2 separate regions of the Homo sapiens genome follow, and region 2 is linked to region 1. Evidence: fine-mapped QTL for protein levels in blood plasma. Region 1 holds a variant in brackets. A gene starts in the other region. All regions are shown on their reverse strands.

What was found. PIP is the chance, under the fine-mapping model, that this variant and not a neighbour inherited with it causes the effect. Protein levels are from antibody-based Olink assays in UK Biobank. Linkage for the fine-mapping came from a reference panel and not from the study's own genotypes, which makes the PIPs less certain.
Region 2: TREML2 starts here. The variant in region 1 is fine-mapped to the plasma level of the TREML2 protein (UK Biobank, PIP 0.95).

The regions. Positions count from the first base shown.
Region 1 is chr12:111,385,488-111,390,861 of GRCh38, reverse strand. All of the region lies in intron 2 of LINC02356 (long intergenic non-protein coding RNA 2356), which reads right to left. It also overlaps the pseudogene HSPA8P14. Among named protein-coding and RNA genes, the nearest start is that of SH2B3, 18 kb to the left of the region's middle. The variant T/AATTT (reference allele first, on the strand shown) is at 2,189.
Region 2 is chr6:41,197,181-41,202,499 of GRCh38, reverse strand. It overlaps TREML2 (triggering receptor expressed on myeloid cells like 2), which reads left to right and starts at 1,351. Exons shown (of 5, transcript NM_024807.4): 1 at 1,351-1,546; 2 at 4,071-4,391. The coding sequence starts at 1,492. RefSeq lists an enhancer at 1,063-1,132.

The sequences.
Region 1 (5,374 bases):
TGCCAATGCCAGCTTTTTTTGTTTGTTTGTTTGAGGCAGGGTCTTGCTCTGTCGCCCAGCCTGGAATGCAGTGGCGTGATCACTCACCGCAGCCTCGACCTTCCAGGCTTGAGTGATCTTCCTGCCTCAGTCCCCCAAGTAACTGGGAGTACAGGTGAATGCCACCACGGCCAGCTAATTTTTATTTTTATTTTTTGTAGAGAGGGAGTCTTGCTATATTGCCCTGGCTAGTCTTGAATTCCTGGCCTGAAGCATTCCTCCCGCCTCAGCCTCCCAAACTGCTGGGATTACAGGTGAGAGCCACCATGTCTCATGTGCCACCTTTTAAAGCAGGACTCATAAATCCTGCACTTGCCAGGTGTGGTGGCTCACACCTGTAATCCCAGCACTTTGGGAGGCCGAGGTGGGCAGATTGCCTGAGCTCAGGAGTTTGAGACCAACTTGGGCAATATGGCGAAACCTTGTCTCTACTAAAAATACAAAAAAAATTAGTCAGGCTATGTGGTGCACACCTGTAATCCCAGCTACTCGGGAGGCTGAGGCATGAGAATCACTTGAACCCGGGAGGAAGAGGTTGCAGTGAGCTGAGATCATGCCACGGCACTTCAGCTTGGTGACAGAGTGAGACTCTGTCTCAAAAAAATAAAAAAATAAAAAAAAATTAAAACAACAACAACAACAAAAACCCCTGCACTTGAGGCAGGGGATGAGCCGGCAGGACCTTCCAGGTCTTTGGGACTTCAGCAAAATTCACTCACACACAGCAACCCAGCCCTTGGCTGGTGTCTCCTTTTTCCCATGTATATACCAGGGGAAGGGGACCCTTGAAGTGGAGGGACTCTGGCCCTCACTATCGCTCCCCCTTCCTCCATGTCCTGCCCAGTGTGGAGCCAGGCCAGCGTGTTTGTGGTGGAGGATGATTTCGGTTCCCTCTTGTGGGTGGCTGGCTCAGCCCACTTCTTGGGTGGGGTGGCCATGGTGGAAGGAAGCTCCGCCTCAGATCCCACCTGGACCACCATCTGCCCCTGCTGGTGGCTAGGTGAAGAGGGGCATCACTGCCATCAGTCCAGAGACTGAGATCTGGATGCCAAACAGCGGGGCCAGGGGACACCAGGTCAGCCACTGACTCATATCCTCGTCACCAAGCACCTGCTATGTCCTGGGCACTGCCAGGTGCTGAGACACAGCGGTGAACAAGGCAGACCAAACCCCCTGCCTTCCTGGACCTGCCTTCCAATGTGGGGAGAAGCCCGCCAAGGGTACATCCATAGTTATCAAGCCCAGATACGTGACCTGCAATTGGCTTCTCCTGGTTTTTCTCCTATGTCACTGGCTGTATCTTCTCATTTCCTTTGTGGGTCCTGCCACATCTTCCCAACCTCCTGAGAAAAGCCCACAGGCCTCCATGATGTCATCTCTCCTCTCCCCTCCTCTCTGCTGCAGCCACATGGCCTCCTGCCTGCGGGCCTCTGCATGTGCTGTTCCCTCTGCCAACAACGCTGTTCCCTGGCCATCTGCATGGTTTGTGCCCTTATTTCCTTCAGGTCTTTGCTCAAAGGCTGCCTTCTCAAGGAGGCCTTCCTCGGTCCCCTCCTAGTAAAATGACAAGCCCTGCAACCCATCCTCATGAACAATTCATATCCTCTTGCCCTGCTTATTTTTCTCCTGGGCTCTTAACTTCAATTCATGGACTGTACGAATGTTATTTACTTATTTTCCCCTCTGGTCAGGAAGGGCAGGGGCACTTGTCTTGTCTGTCTTTAAAAAAATAATAAGTTAAATGAGGTGAAGTTCCTATAACATAAAACTATTTTTTTTTTTTTTTACATAGAGATGGAATCTTGCTATGTTGCCCAGGATTGTCTTGAACTCCTGGGCTCAAGTGATTCTTCTGCCTTAGCCTCCCAAGAGGCTGGGACTACAGGTGTGAGCCACTGCGCCCAGCAAAACTAACCATTTTATTTATTTATTTATTTATTTAGAGACAGAGTCTTGCTCTGTCACCTAGGCTGGAGTGTGGTGGTGGCAGGATCATGGCTCACTGTAGCCTCGGCCTCCCAGGCTCAAGTGATCCTCCTGCCTCAGCCTCTGAATAGTGGGACTCCAAAAAAAAAAAAAAAAAAAGCCCAGTGTACAGGTGTGAACCACCATGCCCTGCAAAACTAACCATTTAATTAATTGTTTAATT[T/AATTT]TTTTGATAGAGTCTTGTTCTGTCACCCAGGCTGGTGTGGAGTGTCATGATCTCAGCTCACTGCAACCTCTGCCTCCTAGGTTCAAGTGATTCTTCCACCTCAGCCTCCTGAGAACCCCGGAATTACAGGCAAGCACCACCATGCCCGGCTACCTTTATATTTTTAGTAGAGATGGGGTTTCGCCATGTTGGCCAGGCTGGTCTCAAACTTCTGACCTCAAATGATCCGCCTGCTTTGGCCTCCCAAAGTGCTGGGATTACAGGTGTGAGCCACTGTGCCTGGCCATTGCCTGTCTTTTTAACTTCTATCCCTGGTGCCTGGGACAAAGCAGTGCCCAGTAAATACTGGTTGAAAGAATGGCTAATGGGAAGCAGCGAAGGCCTCTGACTTAGCGGGAGGGGAAGGGTTGGGGTCACAGACCTTCCTGGAAGAGGCAATGGCTGAGTGAACACTTAAAGGATGAGGGGTGGCTGAGTGAAGGAGGAAGCCTCCTGGGAAGGGGACCAGCACATGCAAGGGCCTGGAGCCTGGCGCACTCTGGGAAGAGAGGGAGGCCAGGCAGCTGCAGCGAAGCGTGAGGAGAGTAAACCATGTGTGAAGAGGCTTGAGGGGTAGCCAGCAGCCAGGATAAGGAGGGCCTTGTCACCCATGGGATGGAGTCTGGACTTGCTCCCAAGGCCATGGGGAGCCATGGAAAGGCTTTGGGCAAGAGGGTGCCATGACTTGATTTCATGAAAGTTCTAAGAGGATCCCTCGGCTGCTCAGTGGAGAATGAACCCTGGGGATGAGGGAGTTGGGAGTGGCAGAAGGGAGGCCGGAAGGGAGGCTGCAGTAACCGACCTGGGGAGAGATAGTGGTGGCCTGGGATGGGGAAGTGGTGGCAGAGATGGAGAAGTGATGGATTCAAGACACGGTTTGGAGGTAAAATCAGGACTTGATCTCGGTGGCCAAAGCCCAGTTCTAGTTCCCAAATTTCCCTTTTTAGTTCTTCTGACTCACTGTCTGCTCTCCACACCTCTCCTGTTCCCAGCCACAAAGATGCCTGGGTGTTCACAGTAGCCCAAACGGAGACACCCTGCGGTCCTCAATGGATGGATGGATGGATAAACCAAAGGTGGCATATCTGGCCAGTTGCAGTGGCTCACACCTGTAATTCCAGCACTTTGAGAGGCCAAGGTGGGTGGATCACTTGAGGTCAGTAGTTCAGTTCGAGACCAGCCTGGGCAACATAGTGAGACCCTGTCTCTACAAAAAATACAAACAAAAAAATTGCCTGGAGTGGTGGCATGCACCTGTAGTCCCAGCTACTCAGGAAGCGGAGGTGGGAGGATTGCTTGAGTCCAGGAGGTTGAGGCTGCAGTGTGCCATGATTGTGCCACTGCACTCCAACCTGGGGAACAAAATGAGATCTTGTCTCAAAAAAAAAAAAAAAATTAGGGTATCCATACAAGGGAACATGATTCAGCCATAGAAAAGAAGAAGGACTGATACATGCCACAATGGGATGAGCCTCAAAACCACGATGCTAAGAGACAAAGCCAGTCACAAAGAAACACGTAGTGTTGATTCCATTCATATGAAATGTCCGGAATAGGGAAACCCATAGAGACAGAGAGCAGATGGCTGGTTGCCAGGGGCTGGGGGGAGGGGCAATGGGGAGTGACTGCTTAATGGATACAGGGCTTTTCCTTTTGGGGTGATAAAAATGTTTTGGAATGATCAATGCTTCCAATTATCAAAGTAAAAAGGAAAAATAAAAGTTTTGGAACTTGATAGAGGTGGTACCTTCATAATGTTGTGAGTGTACTAAATGCTGCTGAATTGTCCACTTTATTTATGTATTTATTTCAAGATGGGGTCTCGCTCCATCACCCAGGCTGGAGTGCAGTGGAGCAATCATGGCTCACTGCAACCTCAACCTCCTGGGCTCAAGCAATCATTCTCCCACCACAGCCTCCTGAGTAGCTTGGAATACAGGTGCCTGCCACCCAGATTGGCTATTTTTTTGGGAGGTGCCAATTTTAAATAGTTTTATTTAAGACATTGCATTTTCCACTTAGAATACAGTGCTTATAAACTACAATGTTACTTCCACATGTTCCATATAAGCATTGAGAATGTCCAGTAATTTACTCTAGCAGCTCGACTTTATTTATTTATTTATTTATTTATTTATTGAGATAGAGTCCCACTCTGTCACCCAGGCTGGAGTGCAGTGGCGCAATCTCTGCTCACTGCAACCTCCGCCTCCCGGGTTCAAGCGATTCTCCTGCCTCAGCCTCCCGAGTAGCCAGGATTACAAGTGTGCACCACCATGCCCAGCTGATTTTTGTATTTTTAGTAGAGACAGGGTTTCACCACGTTGGCCAGGCTGATCTTGAACTCCTGACCTCAAGTGATTCACCTGCCTCAACCTCCCAAAGTGCTGGGATTACAGCCATGAGCTACTACACCTGGCCCCTAGCAGCTCAGCATTAAAACTGCCACAGAATTTGTTACAAATTTGGGTTCTTCAATGTTTTGACTATGTGGAATCATGTGATCTTTATATTGGGGTTGGCTTAATCAACCTCTTTTTTTTTTTTTTTTGAGATGGAGTCTCGCTCTGTCGCCCAGGCTGGAGTGCAATGGTGCCATCTTGGCTCACTGCAGGCTCCGCCTCCTGGGTTCATGCCGTTCTCCTGCCTCAGCCTCCCGAGTAGCTGGGATTACAGGCACCCACCAGCACACCCGGCTAATTTTTTGTATTTTTAGTAGAGACGGGGTTTCACTGTGTTAGCCAGGATGTTCTCGATCTCCTGACCTCGTGATCTGCTCACCTTGGCCTCCTAAAGTGCTGGGATTACAGGGGTAAGCCACCATGCCCGACCTAATCAACCTCTTAAATGGTTGTCCCTGAGGAAGTAGGGACACTACGTGTTTCTTTGTGACTGGCTTTGTCTCTTAGCATCGTGGTTTTGAGGCTCATCCCATTGTGGCTTGTAGCAGTCCTTCATTCTTTTCTATGGCTGAATCCCTGAGGAAGTAGGGAAGTAGAGGGAGGAGCTCCATGACCAGGGACTCCCCCAGGTGAGCCTCCTGGCGGTCCTCCTGCACTTGGGTCCAGCTTGGTAATGATGGGGTTACAGCCTTTCTCCAGCTCTTTCTGCTGATGATCAATTTCTTCCTTCTCTGTCATCTGATTC
Region 2 (5,319 bases), not on the chromosome of region 1:
TTTCCAACAGGATAGGCCAAATAAGGGAACTATATAACTATAACTAATTAAATATTTTCTTCAGTTTACTTGTCCTGTAGGAGTCTTCCCCTTGCATTCCCCCAGTGGAGCTCCTCAACCTCTTCTGTTTGGAGCTGCCTGATTCATGAATTGTTGTTTGCTGAAATAATCTGTTTAAAATTTTATTGTGCCTCAGTTTACCTTTTGACAGTCCCATCTAAGGAGTAGAAACATGGCACTAGTGAGTAGGGGGAGCATACATAATCACGGGAGTCCAGCTGGGTCCCCACACACTGAAGGAGCAGATGACACAGGTACCGGACATCAAAAATTGATGCTTCTGATTCTAGGCCTTGGGGTAAGTGAAGGGTGTGGTCTTGGGCCTAGTGCTGGGTCATTTCCACTGGAGCTGGTGGCTGTACAGGCGAGATAGCATTGAGCAGGAGGAAGTGGAGGGCACTTGCCTGCGTGCTGACGTAGGCTGGAGGCAGGGGAGGAAGGGGGTCTTGAGATGAGGTGGGTGAGGGGAAGTACTGCGGAGGCTGTAGGAAGCCTGCACGAGGGACTAGGAGTCTAGAGGGAGCTGATGGTGAGTAGAGTCGACAGGAGGAGAGGCAGGGAGAGGGACAGAGAGAGGAGACGTATGGATAGGGAAAAGGAGAGGCTGCTGGGGTGTGTGTGAGACTGTGTGCATGGGCGTGTGTGTGTGTGTGTGAAAGTGAATAAAAGACAAAGTGAGACTGTGAGTGTGAGTGCATGTGCATGCACACCTGTGTGTGAGAGTACAGGAACCCCTCCCTCAACCCAAAATTTATGCCCTGAGTCTTAACAATTTGCATTTTTCCCGCTTGACAAAAGTAAGATTTCAAGTGAGCCTGTAAGAGGTTATTTGCAACAGTGAACACAAGTGACTGTTCTGAGCAGCCAGGAGCCTGGGAGAGAGAGAGAGGAAGGAACAGAAAGAATCTGCAATGAATGAATGAATGAGAGTTTATAAGAACTTCCCTGTGAATGTATATATGTAAGAAACTAGGGTCTGAGATGCTCCATCTCAGCCTAAGAGCCCGCACCCCTGGGTCTCTGAGCCCAGAAGATTCCAGGAAGGTCTATACCTGACGTTCCAGAAGCCTCACCCCAGCCCCCTTGCTGGATCCTAGGGACCAGTTTCTGGGGGAGGTTGGGGAGGGCGGGGAGCCCTCTGACTGTGAGTCCTCCCGGCTTGGGGCCCCAGACTGGGTGGAGCAGCCACACCTGCCTGAAGTTCCGAGGAAAAGGGCGGAAACAGCTGCCAGCACCGCCCTCATAATAGGCTCAATGAATCCCTGCGGTTGGCTGGGGGCAGTGGGTCCCACACTGCCTCACTTCCCTAAATGGGCAGCTTCACTTTTAGAACCCCGGGTCCTTCCCTGGCAGGCCCAGGTGGCACATCCTGTGTCGGGTGGGCCCTCACCTTGGATCTCCAGGCCTGACACTGCCCAGCTGGATGGAACCATGGCCCCAGCCTTCCTGCTGCTGCTGCTGCTGTGGCCACAGGGTTGCGTCTCAGGTGAGGGGAGAAGGGGCTGACTTGTGGAGGAGGGAGTGGGTACAGAGGCAGGAGCTCAGGGCCTTTTTCTTACCCTCCTTACCAGCAGTTTTCTTGTTTAGTGTTTTGTGGGTTGGGGAAGGAGGAGATTAGGGCTGACTTAGCTCTTTACCCTAATATCAGGCCCCAGGCGAAGCTAACCCAGGCCTCCCAAGCCAAGATAAAGCTCTGGACCCTCTCTGCATTGGCTCCTTTATCTGCTAGGCTTCCTCAGGCTTTAAAGCAGAGCCCTCAATTTCCTCACACAAATAGCTTTCTCTGCTTGGCCTCTGTCAGGAAGCCCTGCTTAGTTATGACAGCAATCATTGCATCATGTGTGTTTTGAACTGAATTTGAACATTTTTCTTGAAATGCTGATGCCACATCCTGTCCCTGCCTCTGTCCTGAAGGGACCAGTGTGTGAATGCCTTTCCCACCTCACAGATACCAATGCTCCTTGAGGAACCTCACCCATTCCTGCCCCTCTCGCTGCCATGGCAACCAAGTTACCACTTCCTGTTCAGTTCTGGGCATGGTGGGGGTTGGCAAAACTCACCACTGCCTGTGAGAGGGGTGGGAGGTGTAGGCACACATGAAGACATTGCCCTGGAGACCCATCCCAAGGTCACCCAACTCTGCACCTCCCAGAGGGTAGAGAAACAGCTTCCCACTGCCAGGGCAGAAAGGGGTCTCTCTTGTGCTAAGAAATCCTGGGCTCATCCACCAAATAATGAAGTTGGATCATTCTGTTTAGTTTGCAAGGGACAGAGGGATGCTTAGAGAGGGTGCTGCTTCACACAGAGCCTCAGCTCTAGTGGCTGCTGGCTGGGACTTGGGACGGATATCCTGGATTCTGGTGGGACAGATGTCCTGGATTCTGGGCCCTTGACTGTCACAGCTCTGGGTTCCATTGGGGGAACTGGGAGGCCCCAGCATGTGGGAAAAGGAAGCATGAGTTGAGCATGCACTGTGTGCAAAGCACTGACCTGGGGCAGAATTCTCACAGCAACCTGTGAGGGGTGTGGTGCTATTCTCACTTGACTGATAAAGAAACAGAGATATTTCTGTATCAGTCAAGTGTCTGTTTTGATATTTCTGTATCAAACAGGTGACCTAATCACACCACTAAGTGGTAGAAACAGGGTTTCAACCCTTGTTTATTTTGACTCCAAAATGTGTGCTCTCTGTTCTCTACTATGGGGGAGAGTCTTTTTATATGTGGTTTTTTTGGAAGACTCTGGGGTGAAATTATCAGAAGAGTCAGCTGAGCTTAAGGCAGGCAGAGGGGTGGAGGGAGCCCAAGGCAGCTTTCTCCCTCTCTCTGTCCCCTGAGTCACCCTGCACACCCCAGTTCTGCTCTGTCTCTACCAGACTGTGGATTATGAAGGCTTGGACCACATCTTACTCCTCAGCATAGAGAGAAAGATATTGCAGGTGGAAAGTGAATAATTGTAGAATCCTGTGGTTCACACTCCATTGGGAGTTTGTTTACATGTATATTTAGACAGGCTTGATCTATGGGTTTTATGTAACTAGAATATTTTAAAACTAAACACCAGATGGAATGAACTAAGGAGAGTTATTATTTAAAGAGGACTAAGTGAACCTATTTGTGAAATAAATAACTGTTAATCATATTTTCAAATACTAGATTTTCTTATCTACCTAGTTAGTTGGGCACTGAAATTTCACAACTTAATGACCTGTGTTTGTGTCTCTGCATCTGTCTCACTGAGGGCATGACCTGGGTTTTTCCCACAAGAATTCCCTGGGATGCCGGGCACAGTGGCTCACGCCTGCAATCCCAGCACTTTGGGAGGCCGAGGCAGGTGGATCACGAAGTCAAGAGATTGAGACCATCCTGGCTAACATGGTGAAATCCCGTCTCTACTAAAAATACAAAAAATTAGCCGGACGTGGTGGCAGGCACCTGTAGTCCCAGCTACTCAGGAGGCTGAGGCAGGAGAATAGTTTGAACCCAGGAGGCGGAGGTTACAGTGAGCTGAGATCGTGCCACTGCACTCCAGCCTGGGCAACAGAGCGAGACTCCGTCTCAAAAACAAAACAAAACAAAACAAAACAAAACAAAAATGAATTCCCTGGGAATCCCTGAAGACAGAGCTTGTCACTTTCCCATCAGACTAGAAAATACCATGAGGAAAGGGGCTGTGTCTGATGGAGCTCCGAGTGTAAATGCTGCGTTTCCTCCATTAGACTGGGGACTCACTGAGGGATATACCTGCCTCCTCCATCAGACTGAAAGCTCCCTGAGAGCGGGGGTTGTGTCTCCACTGTAATACTGGAAGCTAGCTGTTTTCAGGGCCCATTCACCTCCCTTCAGATTGGGGCAAGCTCCCTGAAGGCGGGGCTGTATTTCCCCCTCAATCTGTGGGTTCTGTGACAGCAGGACAATATCCACTCTACCCTTCACCATGATCTTCAACTTTCATGATGTCTTCTTCCTCTCCTCTTGCCAGACCTTATTCAATAAGTATTGTCTCCACAGGCCCCTCTGCTGACAGTGTATACACAAAAGTGAGGCTCCTTGAAGGGGAGACTCTGTCTGTGCAGTGCTCCTATAAGGGCTACAAAAACCGCGTGGAGGGCAAGGTTTGGTGCAAAATCAGGAAGAAGAAGTGTGAGCCTGGCTTTGCCCGAGTCTGGGTGAAAGGGCCCCGCTACTTGCTGCAGGACGATGCCCAGGCCAAGGTGGTCAACATCACCATGGTGGCCCTCAAGCTCCAGGACTCAGGCCGATACTGGTGCATGCGCAACACCTCTGGGATCCTGTACCCCTTGATGGGCTTCCAGCTGGATGTGTCTCCAGGTGAGCAGGCTGCAGTGGCTCTGGGACGGGTGGAGGGAGTCCCTCCTGCCCCACACTCCACTAACATCAGAGATAATAAGGATAATAATCCATCAGTGGTCATGTTGCACTGTAGTGTTTTCAGAGTGCCTTTATGGCACTATTCGTGGCACTATTGTCACCATTTTACAGATGAAGATAATGAGACCTGAAAACCCAGTGTGACTCTGAGCTTGTCCGGGGTCCCAGAGCTAGCAGGTGGCTGAGATAAGGTTCAAACTTGGCACTGTCTGTGCTGTGTTTTATTCACTCATTGCTTCAACATAATTCATTGAGCCCCTATTATGGGGCAGGCACTATTCTAGGCTCTAAGGAGACAGTGAGCAAAAACACTCACAATCCTGCACTATGGGAGATGACAGGCACACTTATTATCCAGACAAATAATTGCAGAAAACAAGAGGTGTTCATAAGAAACTAGGAACTGTTTCAAATAATTGCAAATAACTAGAGGTGTTCATGAACTAGTAAGCGACTCGGTGGTGGGGGAGCTACTGAAGTACTGGGGGTCAGAGAACACCTCCCTTAGCAGACAACACCAAGCAGAGCCCTGAATGGTGAGCATTTTCCAGCCCTGTTGAAATCTGGGTGCTTTGAAGAGCACTTTGTCGCAAGAGCTGAATATGCAAAGGTCCTGAGGTCAGAAGGAGCTTGGCTTGTATAAGGCTTATTTAGTCACTCTATATGGAGTGTGAGGCAATGAATGAGGAGGTTGGAGAGTCAAGCAGCCCTGAAGACCATAAGTTGGAATTTAGGTATAAGAGGAAGCTACTAGAGAGCTCAGAGAGCTGTCATGACTTGTTTTTAAGAATGTAGTGGCCACTTGTTGAGGATGGATTGTGAATGGTATGAACACGGGTAGAGAGGCCATTGTGGGCATCTGGCTGGA